Linked DNA regions of Homo sapiens: all the other regions are reported to be linked to region 2. The links are microRNA targets in miRTarBase. Many come from high-throughput screens and were not tested one by one. Region 2 holds a microRNA gene; each other region holds the end of a gene's coding sequence.
The links. The annotated mature microRNA hsa-miR-4295 reads CAGUGCAAUGUUUUCCUU and lies in region 2 at 2,391-2,408, shown strand. An mRNA with a match to its seed (bases 2 to 7 or 8) in the 3' UTR can be bound and repressed. Matches are read on the target gene's strand: a 7mer-m8 pairs with bases 2 to 8, a 7mer-A1 pairs with bases 2 to 7 and ends in A, and an 8mer does both.

Region 1 (4,093 bases), not on the chromosome of region 2:
CTTGTCAGATAAGTGGAGCCTCTTTGGACCGAGATCCCTTCAGAAGTACGATTCTGGTAAGGCAGCACCTTCAAAAAAGAGAGCAGCATGGCAGACATCTTACCATATTGTATACCGGGAGCTGTTTACTGGTTTTGAAATCATTTGCACTCTGGTTCACTTTTGTAGGAAGTTTTGCCACCCAGGCCTACCGAGGAGCCCAGAAGCCCTCTCCATTGGAACTGATACGTGCCCAGGCCAACCGAATGGCTGAAGATCCAGCAGCCTTGAAGCCCCCCAAGATGGACATCCCAGTGATGGAAGGAAAGAAACAGCCACCACGGGCCCATAACCTCAAACCCCGTGACCTGAATGTGCTCACACCCACTGGCTTCTAGAGCCCTCTTTCCAGGGATTCTGGTAAAGGTGGTTTCTTGCATCCCACTCCCCTTTTACCTTGGCTTTGACATAGGAAAGGTATATTTAAAAACTTAATCAGCTGGGCGTGGTGGCTCACGCCTGTAATCCCAGCACTTTGGGAGGCCAAGGTAGGTGGATACCTGAGGTCAGGAGTTCAAGACCAGCCTGGCCAACATGGTGAAACCCCGTCTCTACTAAAAATACAAAAATTAGCTGGGCGTGGTGGTGGGCGCCTGTAGTCCCAGCTACTTGGGAGGCTGAGGCAGGAGAATCGCCTGAACCCAGGAAGCAGATGTTGTACCGAGCTGAGATCATGCCATTACACTCCAGCCTGGGCGACAGAACGAGACGCCATCAATAAATAAATAAATAAAGTAAAGTAAAAAACCTATTAAATTGAGGCTAGAGCTGGAGATGTAATTGGTTTTTGAGAAACATTAGTATAAAGCTTGCCCTTGTTGTGTGGAAGAAGCCATTTTGTACTGCTTTAAAGTTAGACTAATATTCTCAGCACGGGTGTATGGGGACCTCATTACCTATTTTTTTCATCATTTACCCTAGGTAAGAACTTTGATCACTGCTTACTAGGTAAAGAATGTTTGTACTGTTCCAAAACCCAGGCTTCTTTATTCCTTTACCACTATCCATGTGAGCATTGACAAATCATGGCTTAGAGGTGCTCACTGACTCGCTAAGACGACTTTGGCCCTGTTGATGACTGGTGCTGTGCTCCAGCCTTATCAGTTAGGGGACCCAAGGTTTGTTTGGGACCTGGGTACAGGTAAAAGCCAGACTTGGCAGGGACCCCTCTTTCTAGGCTGAACCTTGAGTCCCCCTGCTTTTTGGCAGACCTAATGGATCACTGTCTTGCAGCTAGTTCTTCATGTGGGGCCTCTTAGGCCAGTGCCGGAGGAGGCATGCTCCTCTTTCTATGCCACAGAACAAACACTACTCTAGCAGAGCCTTTCTTGCACTTTAAAGTGAGATTAATTTAGCTGTAATTTGGTTAAAAACTTCCTAAGAGAGAAAATTAAGTCTACTGATTTGGTATAGGTAAATGGACATTAAACTTTTTTAAAGTAAAGGAGATGGTAGATACCGTTAGATTATAGTCTTGAGGTTCATGTGAAGCCAGTGGTGTTAACTTACTTTGATTTCCTTGTTCAGGTCAGGGCCTGGAACGCCTGTGCGGGGAGGTCACTCAATTCAAAATTTTCTGTATGAAAGCATTTTTCACCAAAATGAGCCTCATCCCTTTATGCAACACATAACCTTACTGAGGGAGGGAAATACAGAAGCCACCTTTTTATTTCTCTTCACTGTGTACAAGTTCACTTGTTGTCTTGAACACTGTCTCAAATACCTGCTTTTTGTTTTGGATAGTACCTTGTCTGTATAAGAAGCTGGCCTTTCCATAGAGAGGCCCTGGAGTCTAAAATTATGAGAACAATTAATTTATTTGTGTCTTCTATTATGATCTCGTTTTGACAATAAAAATCCTTACTACTTTCTCAAATGTGGCTATTTTTTTGTCCTTTTAACAATAGTTATTCCACTCTACCCACCCAGAGTCACACTGAACTTGGTATTTTGAAAAACCATTGCCTTTTTATTGTCTCCTTTTAACATCAAATGTTTTATAACACACTTGATCCTTTTGTTTCTACCCCCTATTCATTACAGTCAAATTAACAGGCAATATAATAGGTCTAACAGAATGCTTGCATTTCATTAGGGAAAAATGAACGTCTCTCTCCTGAAACAGGTTGTCGGTACCTTGAATGACATAATATTGGTGTATAGACTAGGTTCAGCAGAGGGATTTTTTCCACATCTTGAATGAAAATGTTAAACATGTGATGCACAGAGTATTAACCTGTTTCAAAAAAGTATAGATAAATAATTTATTAAAAAATATATATACCTTGTATATTTAAGCCATATTTGAGAACAGGCTAGGATAGGATTATTTAAAAAAAGATATTTACTAGAGTTAGAAATTACAACCTACTGATTAAATAATGCAGGTTTGGTCCTGTAAGATTTTAACCACTTTTCATGCTTTTAGAGCTTCTGAGCAGTTGGAGAGAGAGTTCAGGAGGTATTCTTGGCATTCAGTGCTTGGCAGGCCCTCAGGAGCCGCTCCAGCCCTTTTGAAAGGGCTCTGCATCAGGGTTCAAGTCCGCAGCATAGAAGAGCAGGAGCTTCAACAAGTGCACTTTGTCTTGGAGTTGGGGGACAAGAGGCTCCCCCAGCATCTGGATCAGGCGGCTGCGGAAGGCCTCAATCTGCTTCTCTACGTCTACCACTGTGATGTCATCTCCTTGCTGGGGTTTGGGCTTAATCCTTTTGATTATTAAGTCCTTTCGGTCGATCACGGAACTCCTTAAGTGTTCTGCAAGAGGGAAAAAAGTCAGTTGGGTGCTCTGAACTGCTTTTTAATTCTTTTTAAGAAGTCTAATTTTGGTAGGTAGAGTCTTGGCAAAGACTTGCTGACTAGCTACAGGGATACAAGTCGAAGGCTGTGTGAGTGCCTGCAGTAACTCCACTTCCAAAAGGCCCTTTGTTCTCAGTTCTCTCGGGTCCTTAAGAAGTTTTACATTAAAAAAAGTGATATGGTTTGGATCTGTGTCATTTTTTATGATCACATAACATGGTCAAAAAATGAAAATACTGAGGAAACAATTAGACATATTCATCTAGTCCATGTTTTAGCCAATAGTATTTAACATGAGTATGATCATGAATAAACAACTAGACAGTCCCAAATTGTAATCCCTGATGTTGGAGGTGGGGCCTGGTGGGGGTGATTTCTCATGAATGGTTGAGCACCATCCCCTTGGTGCTGTTCTAGTGATGGTGAGTTATCATGAGGTCTGGTGGTTTAAAGTGTTTACGTAGCACCTCCTCACTCTTTATTCTGCTGTGGCCACGTAAAACGTGTCTGCTTCCCCTTGAGCCACGATTGTGTTTCCTGAGGCCTCACTGGAAGCAAAGGCCACTATGCCTCCTGTACAGCCTGTAGAACTGTGAGCCAACTAAACTTTTCTTTATAAATTACCCAGTCTCAGGTGTGTGTGTGTGTGTGTGTGTGTGTGTGTGTGTGTGTATACTCCTGACCTCAAGTGATCCGCAAGCCTCGGCCTCCCAAAGTGCTGGGATTACAGGTGTGAGCCACCGTGCCTGGCCTACTCCATGTTCTTGTCAACAGTATTTAACATGAGTGTGATCACGAGTAAGCAATTAAACATCCCAATCATAGGACATGTACAAAATAACTGGCCTGGACTCTTAAAAAATGTCTATTATGAAAGACAAGTAAAAGCTGGGAACTGTGCTGGACTAAAGGAGACCAAAGAGTATGACTGCCAAGTACAGTGCTTCATATTTGACCGTATCCTGGCTCAATCTAAAATCAACTACCTAAAAAGTATATTACTGGGACACTATTAGATAATATTCTATCAAGAACAAGTTTCATGGCAGGCTGTGGTGGCTCATGCCTGTCATACCAGTGCTTTGGGAGGCGGAGATGGGCAGATCACCTGAGGTCAGGAGTTTGAGACCAGCCTGGCCAACATGGTGAAACCCTGTCTCTACTAAAAATACAAAAAAATTAGCTGGGCATGGTGGTGCATGCCTGTAATCCCAGCTACTCGGAAGCCTGAGGGTGGGAGAATTGCTTGAACCCGGG
Region 2 (4,093 bases):
AACAGTGCATACTGTGTCTTGTTTGTCGTGACTCATAATGCTCCATGTACTAAAGATTTGCACTCTTTAGCCCAGGATTGCTCAATCTGGGACCAGAGAACCCTTTTATTTCGCCTATTTTTGTTTACATCTTATAGAACATAATCCAGGATTCTAAGACACTGTAATCTATGAATCACTTATTGATGAAATTCCACAATATGGTAATTATAACAATATAATTGTAATTGTAATTGTAAAAATATACAACTTGGCCAGCCATGGTTATGTTGATCTTTTCTCCAAGTTAGTGTCCATCAGTTGGGGTAGTATTCTTCCCTAGGGGACATTTTGAACCTTTGTTGGGGCATTTTGGTTATCTCAGTGATAACTCAAGGGTAATAAACATCCTGGAATGTATTGCGTAGTCTTTTACAACACTCCCTGATCCTGCACAAACTCTCAAATGTCCTGCTGGTCATTTGTGAAGGTGCACACCCTATTTATAATTATCTGAACGTAGTTTTCCATATGAACACAAAGTATTTTTGTGTGGCTTGAACGTATGTGGAGTTTTCCAAGTATACAATAATTGTGTAAAATCAGGGTTTATTTTAAAAGAGTTCTTTACCATTGAAGGATAGACAGGATTATGCTACAGTAACAAATTAACCTAGAAATTCTGGTGGTTTAACACAACAAAGGTTTCTTTTTTATTTATGCTAAAAGTTGATCAAGCATTGACAGAGGGCTCTGCCCCACTTACTCAAGCATCCAGACTCCACCATGGGGATCGTTGCCAGCCACTGCGGGCAGGGATAGACGGGATTCACATACCAGCTCATCAATATTTTGACCCAAAGTTGAGGTACATCACTTCTGACTATAGTGTACCGGCCAGAAATAGTCATATAGTCCTACCTAACCATAAGGGGGTTAGGGAAGAGGAACAGGTGGAAAGTTGGGTGAGTACAGTGTTCATGGTAATGCGACTTGTAGTATTTGAGCTGTCATTACAGTGCTTGTGGATTGGTTTGCATATGTAGTGTCACATGCATGTTGATTGTACATGCATGTGACAGTTGTATAGGCACAAGCATGTACTTACTTAGTTGTATCTATTAGTATAGTAATGCCTGGGTATTTACAAATAGAAATACTTCTTATTTTGTTGTAAGTTATTTTCCTGTATTTATATTACAGCTAGGGCATTATATTGATTTCTTTTTTAAAAATCCTGTGTGAAATATTTGTTACAAAAAGGTGGTCTGGGCTGGGCGTGGTGGCTCATGCCAGTAATCCCAGCACTTTGGGAGGCTGAGGCGGGCAGATCACGAGGTCAGGAGTTTGAGAGCAGCCTGACCAACATGGTGAGTCCTGAGAGGAGAGGTCTGAAGGAGAGGAGAGGTCTGATGGTGATGAAAGCCACTTTTCTAGGTCTTCGGCATCATCTGGAACACATAGTGGGTCATAGAGAATTACGGGACTTACATAATAATAGTAAGAAGAAGATTAGCTCACATCCTTTGAGTACTCCGCATGTGCCAGGCACTGTGCTAAAACCCTGTAGGTTGATTCTCTGCTTTAAGCATCACCAGAAGCCTGTGAGGAAACCTCCGAATTCTCCATCTTACAGGAGAGAGCTGCTTTTTTCCTTCAAGTATAATGGAAAAGTTGTGGTCCCCAGAATTTCTGTCCTCCCTATGCTAGCACGAAGGGATAATTGATCTTCAGACATTGAAAAGAGATAGCAGGCAAAACACCGGGGCTGGAACAACACAGCAGGATACCCAGGGATCCCAAAAGGAAGTCAAAGAAGAGATTGGAGAAAAGCAGTGGTGAGGAAAAGGGCATTGCCCCCAAAAAGTAATGTCTCCCATGCAGAGAAGACTAGCATTACATAAATGTGTCACTGAGAGAGTTACCTTACCCTGACTCTGTCACCAAATTTTATTAAATGCCTCTCCTATTTCATCCTTGTTGGTGAACTTCCCAGTTCTTCTCTTATTTTATGGGCATAAGAGCTTATACTTTGCAGTTTAGTTAGTTAATTTATTTAAATAGCATTATCAAGTTGGCTCTAGACTAAAAAAAAAAAAAAGTCATGACTCACTCCAGAAAATACCATCAGTTAACAAACGGAAAAAAGGAAAAAGGATCACAGTTAACTCAGAATTATAAAACAATGGTTCTTTTAGGCTTCCTATTTTAGTGGTGTATCCAAACACCTTTTTCCCAGAGTAATAGAGCTTTCTTCCCTTTTGGTTGCAAGCATTATATGAGCAAGATTGGCCACTTTAAAAGTTTTGTTGCATCTTTACTTTCATTACTCAACCTTTATTTCTCCTCAGTCTTTATTCCATAAGAAATATGCTTCAATGGCTTATGCATTTAGAATTGACTTTGTGGAACAGTGCAATGTTTTCCTTGCCTGTGGCAAGACCACTTCGGTTCAAGGCTAAGAAACTAGACTGTTCCTACAGAGACCCTCTGGGTGACTCATCTCTTTTGAGATCCTGATTGTCCATTTTTTGGTTGGTGTTCTGGCAGCAGTGTGTGTTGCCCTGAAGGCACCCTCTCATATGGTGTTGACTACACTATGCTGTGCTATTTAATTCTTGTTTTGGATTGTGCCTCGAGTTTTAAGTCACTTGACAATACAGAAGGTTTCTTTCTCCAAAGATTATCAATATCATACCATTGCCTCTCGGTGGTTATACACACACACACAGACACACACACACATACACACACACACACACACACACACACACACACACGAATTTCATGTTTTCTTCCTTTTGAAACTAAATGTGATCTGTCTGACCTTTCTGAGGAGTCTGCTGCTTTTTCAGATTTATGTCCCTGTGACAAGGTGGTTTGGCAAGCTGTTTGTCTTAATCACTCAGCATCTCCATTAGACAAGCTGTTTAAAAATCTTCTACGTAATTATCTTTTTTGACTCTCACTCTTCCACATTCTTTTCTTTATTGTAAACTTTCTTATGACTTTTTTATATATCTGCCATGTTCTAAAAGGCATTTAAGCCTTCTTACACTGTTTTGTCTGCTTTTCATTAAGTTTGCCATCAATTTACAATCCATGCCCATTGCCTCCTTCACAATCTGAATACATAAACATGCATAATAAATAAACTCTGGGGTTGAATCCTGGACTGAGTGGCCAACATTTTTTCTGTGTCTTCCTTAACTGTTAAAATAGGCAGACAGAGGAGCATTAGAGGAGCTAATTCTAGGAGTCTCCTACGGACATTTGCCGGAGTTTTCACTGCCTTGTTGTTGCCTGTAACTGCAAAGTTCAGAAAGCTGGGGCTGGAGGTGCCTTTATTCATAATATGAGCCAGGCACTGTGCTCATTATTTGGGGGGAATAAAAGATAACACATTTCCTGCCTTCAAGCAGCTTTTACTCTGGTAAAGAGGATAATGCAGGCATGTAAATCTTGTGGAGATGAGACAGCGTGCTGAGGAATTTAAGGAGAAAGATCCCTTTGGTAAAGGCAGATGCAGAATTCATGGCAGATGTAGTGTTTTAGCAGAACCGTGAGCAGTCAGCAGGATTGTACGGATTGGAGATTGGTAGAGGCATTCCAGACAGGGAACCGCAAGGGTCAAAGCTCAGAGGTGGCCAAGTCTAGAATATATGCCAGAGAGAATTGAGAGAGAAGCCTGAAAGAGTATTTAGGCCTAAATTCTGAAAGGTTCTAAATGCTGGCTTAAACCTTGGATTTTTCTTGGTGAGCATGGCCAGAGTGGTGTTTTAGGAAGATTTTAGAAAGATCAAACAATCGAGACGTACTGATGGTTGTAGACAATGAAGACAGGGAAACCAGTTAAGAGGCTTTTGCACTGGTCTTTGTGAGAGGTTACAACAGTAGGAATGGAAAAGAAACAAGTATGAGAGATAATTCAAAGAAAGATTTGAGAAAACCCGATGACTGGTTCAAAATGGGAAGCAAAATAAAGGAAGATTCAAACTGAGTTGATATGTGTGAGTCCCAAGAGACCCACTTGATTCGCCCACATTTAGCTGATGGGAAGAGGCACATAGCAAGAAGCTGTGATTTTTATTCATGCCCACTGAATTTAAGGGAT
Region 3 (4,093 bases), not on the chromosome of region 2:
ACAATAGGAAATATTACCTAGACCTAAAGGAAAATCAGCGGGGTCGCTTCCTACGGATTAGACAAACCATGATGCGGGGGACTGGCATGATAGGTTATTTTGGCCACAGTTTGGGCCAAGAACAGACTATTGTCCTCCCAGCACAAGGAATGATTGAGTTTCGTGATGCCTTGGTTCAGCTGATTGAAGACTATGGCGAAGGAGACATAGAAGAACGAAGAGGTGGAGACGATGACCCGCTTGAACTCCCAGAGGGGACTTCTTTCAGAGTGGACAATAAAAGGTTCTACTTTGATGTGGGCTCTAATAAATATGGAATTTTCCTGAAGGTAAGTGAGGTGAGACCACCTTACCGTAATACTATTACTGTTCCATTCAAAGCTTGGACAAGGTTTGGGGAGAATTTTATCAAGTATGAAGAAGAGATGAGGAAAATTTGCAACAGCCATAAAGAAAAGAGAATGGATGGCAGAAAGGCCAGTGGTGAAGAACAAGAATGCCTCGACTAGAGTGAAATTGAACTCCATCAGGCAAAATTTAAAATCACAAATTGGCTAAAAGTACTGATCCATTATCCTTTGAAGAAGTTTTTCCTCTTTTTTGGCCCGTTGTTATTAGTAATACCTCTAGTAGTTGATACTTCAGGAAGTCTGATTCTCATGTTATGTTACACATAGATCACTATAATTCTTACGGGAATTCCAACCTTCCCAGAGCTAAATAGTTTAGCTGCTTCAACTGCTCCAGACTATTGAAGTATGCAAATCAGCACAAAATGTGACATTCTGACATTCTAAATACCATAACTAAGATTTACATTGCACTATGACATAATCCCGAAAAAAGATACATATACTTAAATAGAAGTGTGACTTTCCCCCAAAAGTATTTCAATTCTACTTCATTAAAAGCTGCTAAGCTTACCTGTAGGGCAGTTACCACAGAAACAGAAATTGACCTCCGGTATATATAAATATTTACTTATAAAAGTACAAGTAGACGTATATTGTCCGTTGAATAACTGAATATACCATCAAAGGATCAAATCTTATTACCTAATTAAACCTTAAAAATATAATGTCATAATATTTCTTAAGAATACTATAGTATTCTATAATTTCAAACTTTGTGGTAACCCTACATTTTATAGTTGCCATATCAAAGCCATGGGAGAGTTTTAATTCGTTATTCTAAGTTTAGTTACAATCCCTTCTTTACCTCTACTTAATGTTCCATATATTTTTATTGACTTTCCAAAGTTTCAGGAATTACTTTTATGTCACATTGAGTGGGAGGCTTCATCCAATGGCTTTGCTATGGAAATCTTGGTGGTGTAGCTTTTCATGCTAATTTAAAGATTGCAAGAGGTTTCTTCCCCAAAATATATCATGGACTCAAGGTGTTATACTTTATGCTTCTTCTTTAACACTCTTTCAGAAGGGTTGGTGTACCAATTAACTGATATAAAAATATACCTGTAATAATATATTTTAGTAGCACTTTTGCAATTGCTACCCTTAAAACCATGTCAACACTTCCAATATAATCCTGAATTTTACAGGTGTTTTAATTCTGGAGGGGGTGGGGATTTTTTTTTTCTAAAAATAATTTAGAATACAAATTTCCAGTCTGAGAAAAATATTATTTGAAGATTGGTTATAAATATATTTGAAAGGAAAATTCAGGCATTTTCCAAGGTGCTCTTTCTGACTTTACACAAGACTCACCCATTTACCTGTATTAAAAATTACTTTCCAGGAAGTGCCACAGCAATTTTTCAACACCTAAGCAATTTTTTAAACAAGTGGATATAGTGTTATATGTGTACCAACCCATCCTGTATTAATTGACTGAAATTACATCTATTCAGCTATATTTTCTTCTGAATGAAATTATTGTCTTTTATCTTGGCTTTATTCACCTCCCACACAATAAGTCCATCTAATCATATTTAAGAGCCAGAACACTGATTTCAACCCCCAAATATCACTCTCATTGATGAGAGCTGGCTGCATGGATTCAAATCAGAATGTAGCTCTTCTTTTATATGCTAAAAGTAATTTAAAATTATATCAGCGATTTTTTTCTTCCAGAGTTTTGTCCCCCAATACCTTTACGTGAGGTCACTAAGAAAACTTGATGGTATGAATTAAAAAAATTAATTTCATTGGTTTATGTTACTTAAGAACAAGCAATCAGTAACCCCGACATATATACTAGTGTTGGTTTGCAGATTGTATTTCACATTTCCTCTAGTAGCGTGAAGGAATCTCATTAGTTCATTATAATTGTGGACCATCTGGATCACTATGGAACAACTGAAGGTTAGGAGATAATGTTAGTACTAGAGCTAATAGCACATGGTGGGTGTTGAGACTCTAAAAGTAGCAAGGATTTTTAAACAGTCCTAACTGTAAAATAACTATGTAGGCTTGCTAAAAAAGTAGTTTTTGGTCTATGAAGGAATGATGTGCACTTGAATTACTGTACTACTGATTGTTATTGCTGCCCATCATAGTGCCTATTAATAATAATCAACCTGTCAGATTTTGGCAAACTGGAGCTGTGAATATTCTAGTATTTGATTGTTCCTATCGCTATTGCTATGAGTGTATACACTCTCTTAAAGTCTTCCTTTCTAAAATATTTATATCCATTAGGTCTAAATGATTTCCTTTTACCTTTTGGGTCTGATAAGATTTGGGTATGTGTCTATATCTATATATATACACACAGACATATGTATATACATGTATACATATATATGTGTGTATACATACATACAATACCATGTCAGACTTAAAGATAAATATCTTTAACTCATTGTATATAAACATTATTAAATTTAGTTTTCCATTAATTATTTAAGTAAAGAATTAGTTAAGCAGCCAGATTTTCTACTTTGTATGTATACTTCAAAGTTTTTACCATCTCAAAGCTGCAGATTAAATAGATGCATATATACTGGCAATTGAGTATACTCTAAAATTATTAAGCCTTCTGCCAGTCCTTTTGTTTCATTTTTTTCATAGTTAATCATTCAAAAATGAGATGATGCTATGACTTTTTGATACTTAAAATTCCCAAGAATTCATTAGCCGTAATTAAATATGATCCAGTTCAAAACTCTGGTCTTAGGACATGTATTGCCATGTATCTTATAAAATAAGCTACTATTCTTATCTGTGCAATATGCATTTTATTTATTGTCATTTGTAACATACATGGAGCTGCAAGTGTTCATGGTATCCTTCAAAATAACAGAATCCCTGCCTTGAAGACATTAAACTCTTAAGGCAACTGGAAGTTAGAAGTTAAAAAATGAGCATGAAAGTTAGTAACCAAAAGTACTAGTTCACTGTATAATTCTAAAACACTGATGATGTTTGCACCTAATAATCCAAGCATAATGTGGTACAGGCTCAAACTGTAGTAATATAAGCTAATAGTATGAAATTTGGAAACGGGTTCCTCTTGATAGTTGGCAGTGTGCTCCTAGCAATCGAAAGCAGCACTAATCTGTTGCTTTATGCAAAAGATGCAATGTATTATAAAGATATTAAAGTTCCTCTACATTTTATAATTTTCCTTGTTAAAGCCCCAGACTGCCATGTCCCTGAAACTTGAGTCAAACACAAGCTTATTTGCACTAAAGAGCATGGCCAAAAAAATAAATGACAGGGTGGAAAAGCTAGTTGGAACCTCTTGAAATAATTGGTTCTAATATGAGAATTTCACATTTGTCTATTTGAAAGCTGTATGGTCCAGGCAGACAATCTGTCAGTTCACTAATTTAATAATGCACTTTACCTTTTGTATATAGAAGATGTACATTTATGCCACTTGACAGGTGGGATGTGTTTCAATAACTATGTAGCTAGAATCTATAAGGTGATCCCGTGCATGCATATGTTTGTGTTGGAACTGTTGTTGTAACAGGTTTCCATTAAATCAGTGTAATGGAGAAGGGTAGAAGATGCTTTTGAAACAAATCCCAGTATATTTAACAAAGAATTTTAAAGTAGAGTTCACATTTGATGTCTTAAGAACTAGAATAAATAAAATACTATTTCTAACCCAAATTCTTATTACA
Region 4 (4,093 bases), not on the chromosome of region 2:
CCGCCTCAGCCTCCCAAAGTGCTGGGATTATGGGCGTGAGCCACCGTGCCTGGCCTTAGATTTTAAATCCTCTACTATTTAGTTCTTCCTACCAGGCATGGTGAAACCCAGTACACCACCAGTTGTCTCCTAATTGGGGATGTGAAACCTCACACCAGTATTATGACATGGAATAACCTTACTCCATAGTGCACTTTTGCCTGTGGCTTTAAGTTCCTAAGAGTTTCCATAGCTCTGGCACATTCTTTACCTACCTTAAATTTATTTTGCATCTTCGTTTATTAAGTTGTCTGTATATGGTAGTGAGGTAGTGATGCTTAGTGTCCTTTCTCCACAGACCATGGACCTGCACTCTTGTCCGAAGCCGATTGTATTTGTGTTGCACACGTTTTTATCGGCCAAAGTCACTCGTATGGGACTGCTTGTATGAGCAACAAAAAATCAGAAAAGAGCCTTGACTGTCACAAGAAATATTTCCACCTCAAAAAAAAAAAAGCACAAAAAGAAACTCTTTGCTCTCCTTCAGCACAGTGCCTTCCCAAGGACCTGCAAATAACTGCTGAACCATAACCGTGTTTAAAGAAGAGCCTACCTTTCACAGTCTACCTTGGCCAGATATTCTAGCACTCTAAAAGGCTCCAAAATGAAGCTGTTGATTTATTCTCATTTCAAAATATGGTTTATGAGTAATTAGGTTTATTTCTACTGCTAAAAAGAATGGCTCATTGTTTTCTTTTTTTTTCATTGTTTTCATTTTTAGACATAATCAAATACCCAAGCATTGTTTTCTTTTTCTTCTCCCTGTAGGATTTGTGTTGTGCTTAGCCTTGATCTCTTGTTCAGAACAATTGTCCCTTCCCAGGTGCTAGCTTGCAGCAGCCTGTTGCTTCCTGAGCATTCCAGATAGGTCGTATGTCTTGGAATTTACTGTCCTCACTAGCTCCTTCCACCATAGGAAGTCCTTGAATTGTATCACCAAAGGGTTGTTCCATTTGCCCTGGATCTCCCTCTATCTCAGCCTGGCCATCACTTCCCACCTTATCCCAAGCTTTGCCACTGTCTCTAGGACTTAGAACTTGTAAATTTGATTTGCCTTGCCTTCTACTTCCTTTCTAGTGGTGACTGAGTTGAAAAGCAAGTTGGAAGCCACTGCTTTTAAAGAAAAGTTTTGCTTGGTTTAGGTTTTTCCAATTTTATTTTTGTTAGGAGCCAGGGGATAAGATTTATTTTAAATGAAAATCCTCTTCCTAGGTTAAGCCATTTTTTTTATTGCTTACCAAATGTGCCTTTGGTTAGGGTTAGTGGAGCTTTATTAGTCACTATTTGAATAACTGGAAATCACTGCCATTTCCAGGAGATCACCTATCCTAGTTTTGAGGAATAGTCATTGAGGTGGGTTTCCTTAATGGCATCTCTTCTAGTAGGCAGATCTGTTTGAACAAGATAAATCCTAAAGAGCCAGCCTGCTTGAGGAGTAGACTTGGTGGGTGAAGCCAGCAATTCCGCACAAACGTCATGTTGAATTGTTTTGGGCTGCCCAAAAACAACAGGATGCAGCATCCTGGCTGTGGCCTGGCCCTTTGTGGCAGCAGTGGCATGGACAAGCAACTGCTAATTCGAGACTTACTATTGGCTTCACAGCACACCCTACAGTGAGCAGGGTGATGAGACCGTGGAACAGCTACCTGCTTTTGGTTAAGATTGCCAGATATCATTAGGACACAGTAGCAGCAAGAATGCTGATTTTGTAGTGTTAGAAAATGAACTCAGCTTGTTTTTCCTAATTTTGAAGGTGGTATATATCTGCAAACATTTAAAATGGTATAATATCATATAAAATGTCAAAATTAGCACAGTCCCTGGATCTCAAAGAATAGGTAATATTGACTTGGATGTTCTTTATGCTCTCTGAAGAAAGGTCTAGGGAAAGTTCTTGTTTGCTTGATTGATCAAGAGTGCCACGGAAGAATGTGAGCGCTGTGGAGGGTGGAGGAGGGTGTCACTTCAGATGGGGCAGGCACAGGGGGAGAAAAGAAGAGAAAAACACACCTGTGTGCAAAATGAGCTATTTGGTTTCAGTGCGGCCTGACCGATGGGGAGGACCCATGAGCAGAGAGAGTTCTAGGTCAACATTGTAACTCCATTGTCCTCCTTCACCCATAAGTCAGTCCTCCTTCCTCATTACAGTGAAACCAACAATATGCAGAGGTTGGGGAGAGATGCCTGTTCTTCCCCCAGCTTCATATAATTGTCAAAGTTCCAAAAATGAATTATCTGAACTGCTTAAAACTGGAAATTAAAATCTAGACAAGAATATGTCTTTCAAGAGCTTTTTATGTTTTGAAAGTTCATAAACCTAAGATTGGCTCCATCTGAGATAAATTTTCTTTTCTTTTTTTTTTTGAGACGGAGTCTCGTTCTGTCTCCCAGGCTGGAGTGCAGTGGCATGATCTCGGCTCACTGCAACCTCCACCTCCTAGGTTCAAGTGATTCTCCTGAGTAGCTGGGGTTATAGCTACCCACCACCACACCCAGCTAATTTTTGTATTTTTAGTAGAGGCAGGTTTTCACCATGTTGGCTAGGCTGGTCTTGAACTCCCGACCTCAAGTGATCCACCTGCCTTGGCCTCCCAAAGTGCTGGGATTATAGGTGTGAGCCCCCGTGCCTGGCCCACAATAAATTTTCATTTCAGAGAAGGAAAAAAATCTCTTGAACGTCCAGAAATGATTTCTGGAATCAGAATTTCAATATGTAATACCCTCAGGTAGGCAATCTTGAACCCTCTATGCAGTGAGAGCATTATTAATATGAGATGTTGAATGATGCCTTTACAGACTTCAGCAGCAAAGCCATTTGGTTGAGGTTTTCTGTGTTAATGTGAAAAGCTAAGCCACTGAGATTTGCAGGGGAGCTTCTGAGCCACCCTGCTTGTTGGTTATATGAGGATGTAAAATAGGTGGAATTAAAATGTGAGCAGGAAAGGCAAGGCATGTGTGCATTTTCACTCATTTTGGTCAAGGTTAAACTGACATGTATAGCACTGAGGTCTGTAGGGTTCTTAATATCTTTTGAGTCTTGCTGTGAAATGAAAGTGTGGGAGGTTTCCTTTGTCCATTAGCAGCCCCAAGAACCAGAACCCTTTTGCTGCTTTTCTTACATACCTAACAGCTCTCCAGTCATGATGACCAAGGTTGTTCTTCAATCAAATGTGTTTGTGGGATTTTCAGTCCGCAAATGAAGTGCTCTCTAATGAATGGGACACCATGATAAATATGTATTTATATTTAGATGCCAAAGTATGGCAAATTATTTCCAAATGATAACTACAAATGGGAATTTTCGATATTCTACCTTTTTTATAGAACCAGCTCACTTTTCATTTCTTTTTCATTTTGAATTAAGAAAATTGTTGAGGATGTGGTGGGTTCCAGTGTGTGGAATGGAAAGGAAACTGCAGAATAGTGTCTGCTCCCCATTCAGAGGGACTGCTTCCTGTGCCCCCCAGACCCGGGGCTTCGACAGCTTCTCCACATTCCACACAGATGCCTAGGAGCAGCGAGTTGGTATATGAAAAGTCTCCCACCTTTTCTCCTAAAACTTCTCTCCTTTCTCTCCATAAAAAGAAAAGGAAAGGAACAAAAGAAAAACATTCAGTTTTTCTTTTTCTGAAAAAGGTAAGTCCTTTCCTGAAGTCATCAAATGAAACATTATCTGGAAATTAGTTTCTAATGTTGTATATGAAGAAATACTTAAATATAAGTTCCTGCAGTATTTATTAGATAGTTGTAACTGTAAACTCACCTCCCTAGTAGATAAGAGTTTCAGGTTAAATACTGGAACATATATAGGCAGTCAAAAATACTACTTTAAATGTCATTCACCTATTTTAAAGCCATGTTTTAGCACTTTTTAGGCCAAAGAAGGTCTGATAGTGCCTGTTTTTATGTTCTGTACTCTCACAAACTTTGTTACTCAAAATTATTGCATGGCAGGAGAGATTGGATTATTTATTTCTTATATTTTTATAAGTAAAAAAATCTTTCTAAACAACAAATACCTAACATTATTACTGATTGTTTTCCTAATTTATCC
Region 5 (4,093 bases), not on the chromosome of region 2:
TTTTCAGAGCTGTTTTACAGATGACGGTGGCAGACAGTGGCTGAGCAGTTGGGGCTGCAGCTCATGTCCCCTCGGGCACCTCCGTGCCTTCTGGAGACTCAGACCTCTGCCCACCCCAGACCAACCACATCCAGATTTCTGTAGGGGGGGCTCCAGAGTGGCACTTCCAGCACATACTGTAGGTGATTTTTACATACAGTCAAGTTTCAGAAGCATTTCTGGAGAGCTCAAGGTGTGTGTGGGGGGGGACATGGTGGCCCTCACCCATCCTTCTGTTTGCTTCATTTTTCTTCATGAATTTGTCTCTTCCTGACATGTTACATATCTGGTTTCTCCTGCCTCCTTCACTAGAACACAGCCTCCAAGGGGGCAGGTTGGGTTTTCCCGTCTCCAGCGCATCTGGAGAGGCACCTGTCCCAGCACCATAGTGACTGGATGTGTGTGCAGAAGAAGGAACGCGGTGCCCTCTACTCCAAGGGCAAGAGCTACTGGAGTCTTTTTGAAAATAAAAGTGTTGTTACATGTGTGATATGTAAGTGGCATGTGCTAATACACATTTTCTTTCTTATTAACAGTGGTTCAGCACTGAGTCATGCTTGCTTCTGCTACGCACTGATTTGTTCTATTCCAGTTTTCACGTACATCGTTTTGGTGACATCTCTGCGTTATCATTTATTTATATGGAGTGTATTTTCTCCAAAACTTCTCTACGAGGGAATGCACCTGCTCATTACAGCTGCTGTCTGTGTATTCTTCACGGCAATGGATCAAACCAGACTCACACAGTCTTAGACTAAGCTGAACACTGGAAAAATAATACATGCTTAAAGTCTGCTGTTATTCTAAAATGAAAGATATGAATTCAACAAAGTTGATGGATAACTTTCTTTGACTGCTCTACCTGAATTTAGACTAAGCAGTAAATAGTTTAATAAAAGATCACTTTAATATACAGTTTGTATCATATTTTCCCCCATTGACAATCACTCTAGAAGCTTCTGAACTTTTAATTTCCTCTGAATAAGCTATGGTGTGACCCAAATATGTGTGTTTAAATCAATGAATGAAAAGGTTCTGGACTTTGTTAGAGTCCAGGAGCTCTGTGGGAGGAGGCACCCAGATTACCTTAGGGAGCACAGAGCTCTTAGAATCCTACAAACCACTGAGGGCCCCAAGGCGCTTTGGTTTATGAGGGTTACATGTATCAGTGTTTATGGCATTTGAGATGAAAACTAAGATAAAAAAGTATTCATTTATAAGGAATCTATTGCATATTAATGAAACACTTGAAGGAAAAGTAACTATATTTTCCAAAACAAAAAAATTCAGTGAGACCCAGCACTTTGGGAGGCCAGAGTGGGGGTATCACTTGAGCCCAGGTGTTTGAGATCAGCCTGGGAAACATAGTGAGACCCTCATCTCTCCAAAAACTTCAAAAAATTAGCTGGGCGTGATGGCACACACCTGTGGTCCCAGCTACTCAGGTGGCTGAGGAAAGAGTATTGTTTCAGCCGAGTTCAAGGCTGCAGTGAGCCATGATTGTACCACTGTACTCCAGCCAGGACAACAGAGTGAGACTCTTGTCTTTAAAATGAAAAAATAAATGTTTAATGAGAAAAGTGATAATGTTTTACATTTTTACAAACCTCTTTAATGCCTGGCCTAATTGAAGCTAGTTGGATTTTGTGTTTGACCTGTTGTGATATGTGTGTTTGGTTACAATATAAGAAGAAAATCGGCTGGGCAGAGTGGCTCACACCTGTAATCTCAGCACTTTGGGAGGCTGAGGCGGGGGCAGATCACCTGAGGTCAGGAGTTCAAGACCAGCCTGGCCAACATGGTGAAACCCTGTCTCTACAAAAATACAAAAATTAGCCAGGCATGATGACAGGTGCCTGTAATCCCAGCTACTTGGGAGGCTGAGGTGGAAGAATCGCTTGAACCAGGGAGGCAGAGGTTGCAGTGAGACAAGATTGTGCCATTGCACTCCAGCCTGGGTGACAGAGTGAGACTCCATCTCAAAAAATAATAATTATTATATATATATGAAGAAAATCCAGCCTCAGATCAGTAGTTGGAAAGAGGAGGCATATTTTAATGTCCTTTTTCTGATTATTGTGGATGTTCTTTTTTGATACCAACACCAAATCTTTTTTGATGCCAACACCAAAACTCAACAAATGTTAGTTTGCTGAAGGTTAGTTGGACAAAAAGAAAAGAAACGAGTGCATATAAAAACTGGTGAAATGCTACTGAGGGCTGTATTCGAATTAATAGAATTGTGCCCACATCATTTTCCTGGTATTTATCTGGTTGTGTAAGATACCATCATTGGGGGGAGGTGGGTGAAGGATATGTAGAACTCTCTATACTATTTTTGCAACTTCTTGTGAGTCTTCAACTATTTCAAAACAAAAGTTATTTTGAAAAAGAAAAGGTTAGCTGCCATGTGGAATCTGAAATCATATCAATGAACTTTCATGTCCTGATGCATTACGACACATTGACCTGTCTTGCACCCTGAATGGAACTTTTACCCAGATGTGATTCTTAACATCTGCATTGTTGTTTGGAAAATAACAGTTCACTGGATGATAGAAATTTCCAAATGTTGTTCATTATTCCATACCAAAATCACTTATTTATATCACAACCGAGCTCATCAGAAAAGTCTTTAAAGAGTGAATGGTGGCTCACGCTTGTAATCCCAGCACTTTGGGAGGTTGGGGAAGCAGGAGGATCGCTTGAAGCCTGGAGTTTGTGACCAGCCTGGGCAATGTAGTGAGACCCCATCTCTAAAAAAAAAATTTGAAAATTAGCCAGGTGTAGTGGTATGTGCCTGTAGTCCCAACTACTCAGGAGGCTGAGGCAGGAGGACCACTTGAGCCCAAGAGTTCAAGGCTGCAGTGAGTTAGGATTGCACCGTTGCACTCCAGCCTGGGCAACAGAGCCAGGGCCCATCTCTAAAAAAATAAAAATGTGAAGAAAAAAAATCTCACCATCCAGAAGAAACAGTCACTAACAGTTAGTGAATACAGTTCACTAAATGGAAGAAGCAGGGAGGATGCATAGATGCATACATGAAAATCATACTATATATTTATAAATATTTTATATAAATATATATACAAATAATATATAAATATATATACAGATAATATTTATATAAATATATATGCAAATATATAAATATGTTCATGCAAATAATATTTTATATAAATATATGCAAATAATATTTTGTATAAATATGTATGCAAATAATATTTTATATAAATATATATGCAAATATTTTATATAAATATATGCAAATAATATTTTATATAAATATATTTATGCAAATATTTATATAAATGTATATACAAATAATATATAAATATATATTTATGCAAATATTTATATAAATATTTATACAAATAATATTTTATATAAATATATATTTATACAAATTATATATAAATATTATATATAACTTTTTAATCCAAAGTAGTTATATAAGTTTTTAATTTAACAGGAAAAGTGAAACCAAAGAAAAGGCTGAATTTTGAATAAATGTTTCTTCACTACAAGAAATATACAATATTCTTTTAAAATTAATTTCTTATAACATCTATTAAGAGAGCTGGTAGCTAACAGAGAAAGGGCAGCTTCTCAGGCAGAGGATACACAAAGCCTTGTTTCAATTGGAAGGCTGATTGTCCACATCAAAGAGTTTCTGCCTCTTCATATCTGTAACTATGGAATATTGATAGGACAATGCAATGACAAGATTGATACTGTTTTAAAGTATTGTTTATGCTATACTTTAATTCATTTATCCTCAGTGGAGCCCTGTGACCAAGTGGATTTTTTTTGTAACACCAATAACTTGATCAACTTTGACAATACAATCAAAAGATGTTTGGAGGGGAAAACACTAGAGGGATCATTACATGGTAAAGTGATTTTTCATCCATTCGGCCACTCTATGTCTTTTGATTGGAAAGTTCAATCCATTTACATTCATTATTATTTATAAGTAAGGATTTACTCCTGCCATATTACTTGTTTTCTGGTTGTTTTGTGGCCTTCTTTCTTGCCTTCCTGTCTTCCTTTA
Region 6 (4,093 bases), not on the chromosome of region 2:
TAGGCTTTCTCAGCTTAGGATGAGCTTCTCAGGTGGTTGGATATTAGGACTGTACGTTATAGCTGACCACAGATTCTAATCTTGAAAAACTGCTTCATGAGACTGTAGAAGATAGCATTCTCTTAAGAACTTTCCAAAACTAAATGACTACTTACTATCCCCTGGGCTTATGAATTCTGTAAAGAATTAGCAGCTTTAGGTAGAATATGGTCAACTTTTTCTGAAGGTCCTTATTTAGAAACAAAGGAATACCCAAAGGTCTGAGTTGGCTGCCTGTCTAGATTACTTTTTCTTTTTTTTTTTTAAAGAGGCATCTTGTTCACTTGTTCATCAATTAATGCTCTTGAATCATAATTTTTATTTCAATGTCCATTTCATAAGAAACCTATTCACTGAACATTAAAACAGAAGGCTGTAAGAATGCAACAGACTGAGTGAAAAAAATACCCTTCCAAATAGATTTCACACGTCAATCTCCATCAGAGAAACATTTCCCATCTTAATGCCTCCCTTTAGAAGTAAATAATAATAATTTGAGATAAACTACACTTCTTCCACACCTAGATATACAGGGTTTTAATGCTAAAAAAAAATTGTATATTTTTCATGAGAATTTCTCTAACCCCGAATTTTGTAAATAAACCAGTTTAAACATCATTAGTTTGTTATCTATCCTCTATGTGTTACTTCATCTAGATATATACAAAAATTTGGAATGAATAAATGTTGGTTGATAAAAATATTACATAGCTGCTAATGGGATTTTTTAAGTGCAGCAAATTAATACTTAAAAGTTTGGTTCTGCTTATGGCAAGTTTTGTGTTTAAAAGAATTAAGTGTATATATATATATCTTCATATCCAGTCCAAAGAGGTCAGAAGAATATTTACAAAATAAATATGTAGGGAATTTTAGAATTTCATTGATTCAGATGAAGTGATAATTCCTTAATTAGCATAAATCTTTAGATTGTATCAACTATTGTATGCCGTATAAATTACTCTGATCAGTATTATTTTTTTACTGGTTAGAGTAAGAAATTACTCTTAAAGACAAAATCACTAAAAGACAGTTGTGGTTTTGATGAATTGCTATATAATACTTACTAAAGTTAGTTATGGGTATAGGCCTTAACTACAATTTACTCAACAATATATAAACTAAAAATGTCTTCTCCACTTCCTCAAAAAATTTAATTATTTTATTCAAATTTTGAAACTTTATTACAGCAAAATTCTAATTCAAAGTCCTTGTCATTTAATTTTAGTTTTCCAATACTTTCAAAGAAAACTTGGCTATAATACTCCTCTTGGTAAAGTTTCTTACGCAACTTTATGTGTTGCAAGAATACTATAAAATTTTAACTAACTAGAGTAGGATAAAATGCCAGTGCATATAACATCTGTTGCATTTATAATACTTCAATGTAATGTGCAGACAATGAAGTTAAGGTTTGCTGAAGATCCATTGTTCCGTGAGGCTTAATTCCTTTTCCAAAATTATAATTGGTATATGTGGTTCAAGGTAAAGTAGTTGAAAACTTCACAATTATACTTATTAAATATATTTCTGATTAAAAGTAGAATGTGCCTGTGAAAATCTGAAATCAATAAAAGAAATGTTAGCTATTTTAGAATGCCAAAATTAATATTTAAAAACAAACTAAGAATAAAGGGAACACCGAGACTTGTCTTAAAGAAGCTGTTTGTCATTCTTTTTTTTTTTAGATTACAACACACATACAATAAGTGAATTTTATCAAAATACAGCACATTTCTTCTACTATATCCATAAAAATCAATTCCTATGTAAATAGTACTGAAAATCAACTAAAATGAGTTAAAATTTACAAAGAGTTGTTAAAGGGTTTCAATCAAAATTATTAAAACTATACAGTACAATAACCAATTGATAACATCTTGAAAGAAGTGCAATATTTGAGTTCACATATTTTTAAAAGTGCTGCCTACTTACTCTGACTAGCAAGAATGGAAAGTGAGTCCAACTCACTTTTGCAAAAATAATGTTGGTTGGTGTTTTAAGCTAGTCTTATAAAAGTCTTAATTAAAATCAAGGTTGATAAACAAAGCATAACAGATTAAAAATTCCCAAATTGCATTTCTTAGTAAATAAAAATGAAGTGCAATAACCAAATATTGCTCTAATGAAAGGTTCCAGACTAGCCTCAACTAAACAGTTATTGGTCTTCTATGGCACTTTTTTCTGGTCCAAATAACCATGCATTAATCCTTACCATTACATGTTACTCAAATTTTATTTGATTACATAGAACAAAAACAAATAAAATTAATGGTCTGGATAAACAAAATTAATAAACCTCTATCATCAAATATTTGTTACAGTAACTAGGAACAAAGAAAGGCAGTTGGTGGTAAAACACTATTACACTGATACACATAGAAACCCTTTAAAGACTCTGGAAGTGTTGAGTTCACATTTAATGTTACCTGTAGAAACAGCCCTTTATTTGAACACCTTTACACACTGGCAGGCCTCAAGGACCCATCCCTTTGCTCTATAACTCTCCACAGCAATTCTCTATCACTGTGCCAGTTTCACAAAGCTTGCTTTGGTTTCCTAGCTCCAAGTGTACTGTTTCCTTTTACTTTACCAAGGCAATGCAAGGCCAAACAAAAATCAAAGAGGCTTTCCTAAACCTTCGTAACATTTTGTGTTACAGGCAACACAATCTTAAAACTGGCCATTTTTGTTTCATTTGCTGCTTAAAATAAAAATTATAAATTAGATTTAAATGGAGCACTAATTATAAAACAGATTGCAAGTACCACCATTTGAAAAAAAAAAAAAAATCAGTGGATTTCCATAACACAGAAAATGCATGGACATGCATCTACAGTAGAGTTAAAAATTTCCTGTGACTAAAAAATTAAAAACTGAATCACCAGTAGCAAATGTATAGTCAATGGCTATGACAAGAACAGATCCTGCCGAGCTCATAAATGCAATTATTGTCTTTTTTGCTTTATAAAAAAGACATTACATATTTTATTGCATTATTCTCCTAATAAAAACATACTACCACGTAGCTCTCCCCATCCCCATTCTTTGCTTCCAGATTTTTATAGAAAATAACTGTTTTAGTCTGGCCTTGGAAAGTGAACCCACCAGCACCACCTTCACCTACTCACTCTTCAATTCAATATGCACATAGCAAAAGCCAACACTTCAAATCTCTTGCCCACATCAAAAAAAGTAGTTTCAGGAGAAAAACATTAATACCAGTTGAATAAAAATAAGGGCATAAAAGCTATGAGAGAGATAGCTCTGCCATCTGTCTCTGGGCTAAAATCAAGGCTAACTATTGCCTTGCACACAGTTCAGTCATGTATATGAAATCCAAAAATAAACCTACAATCTATACAAAAACAACACAGGTTTGTTTTTGTAGCCTTGATTGCTATGTTTAAAAACCTAACAAGTTTTATATGGTATGAATTCAACAGTCTCCTTTATATTCTGTACAGTGGTTCTTTCCCTCTAACCACAAGTTCCATTATTTCATTAATGTACAAATTTGAACATAATTTTTTGAGTTCTTCTTTATATATAAAAATAGTCAAAATATTAATTTCCCCTGTAAGTATCTTCCAATAAATCTTGCTGTCTTCCCCGCTTTTTTTGTCCACAGTGCTTATGAGGAAACTTCTCGTACAATGATGAGTTCAACTGTATTCTGGAAAGTTTTTAGCAAGGACACTGCTTGTCCATGTTCAATATTTATAAAACTGTAGCCATTAGCCTAGAAGAGGAAAAATGCTTTTAGGAAAAACATTTTATAGTTATTTATTTGCATTTCTGCCAAGTAGTTCACAAACTTGGAAGAAAATAAGAATCACTTTGGCAACTTAAAATAACATACAGATTCACAGGCCCTACCCAAACCAAGGAATAAAGTCTCTGAAGATGGGGTCTAAAAATGTGTATTTTGTCCAACTTCTCAGCCAATTCTTATGTAGCAGCCCAATGTTAGAAATCACTTACTTAAGAAATAATGTCAGACATGGTGTCGTATAATGCTAATGTGTATCTGAGGTGACCAAACTGTAGCGTA

Region 1: the mRNA of KIAA1191 is a reported target of hsa-miR-4295. Seed matches in the 3' UTR shown: 7mer-m8 at 1,368-1,374.
Region 3: the mRNA of PURG is a reported target of hsa-miR-4295. Seed matches in the 3' UTR shown: 8mer at 819-826.
Region 4: miRTarBase lists SNTB2 as a target of hsa-miR-4295. The part of its 3' UTR that is shown has no 7-base or 8-base seed match.
Region 5: miRTarBase lists PIGG as a target of hsa-miR-4295. The part of its 3' UTR that is shown has no 7-base or 8-base seed match.
Region 6: the mRNA of ERBIN is a reported target of hsa-miR-4295. Seed matches in the 3' UTR shown: 7mer-m8 at 2,140-2,146 and 7mer-m8 at 1,928-1,934.

What each region holds. Positions count from the first base shown.
Region 1 is chr5:176,343,884-176,347,976 of GRCh38, reverse strand. KIAA1191 reads left to right here. Exons shown (of 9, transcript NM_020444.5): 8 at 1-56; 9 at 169-1,915. The coding sequence ends at 377. It overlaps SIMC1 (SUMO interacting motifs containing 1), which reads right to left. Exons shown (of 10, transcript NM_001308195.2): 10 at 1,988-2,794. The coding sequence ends at 2,532. Among named protein-coding and RNA genes, the nearest start is that of KIAA1191, 16 kb to the left of the region's middle.
Region 2 is chr10:112,631,790-112,635,882 of GRCh38, forward strand. MIR4295 (microRNA 4295) reads left to right here and starts at 2,381; the gene lies at 2,381-2,465. The region is part of intron 5 of VTI1A (vesicle transport through interaction with t-SNAREs 1A); the gene reads left to right. LOC124902503 (a long non-coding RNA gene) reads left to right here. Exons shown (of 2, transcript XR_007062292.1): 2 at 1-4,093.
Region 3 is chr8:31,028,155-31,032,247 of GRCh38, reverse strand. PURG (purine rich element binding protein G) reads left to right here. Exons shown (of 2, transcript NM_001323311.2): 2 at 1-1,398. The coding sequence ends at 509. Among named protein-coding and RNA genes, the nearest start is that of PURG, 3.2 kb to the left of the region's middle.
Region 4 is chr16:69,300,495-69,304,587 of GRCh38, forward strand. SNTB2 (syntrophin beta 2) reads left to right here. Exons shown (of 7, transcript NM_006750.4): 7 at 338-4,093. The coding sequence ends at 430. Among named protein-coding and RNA genes, the nearest start is that of VPS4A, 8.8 kb to the right of the region's middle.
Region 5 is chr4:538,578-542,670 of GRCh38, forward strand. PIGG (phosphatidylinositol glycan anchor biosynthesis class G (EMM blood group)) reads left to right here. Exons shown (of 13, transcript NM_001127178.3): 13 at 576-1,623. The coding sequence ends at 792. Among named protein-coding and RNA genes, the nearest start is that of TMEM271, 36 kb to the right of the region's middle.
Region 6 is chr5:66,078,111-66,082,203 of GRCh38, reverse strand. It overlaps ERBIN (erbb2 interacting protein), which reads right to left. Exons shown (of 26, transcript NM_001253697.2): 26 at 1-3,781. The coding sequence ends at 3,674. Among named protein-coding and RNA genes, the nearest start is that of SREK1, 64 kb to the left of the region's middle.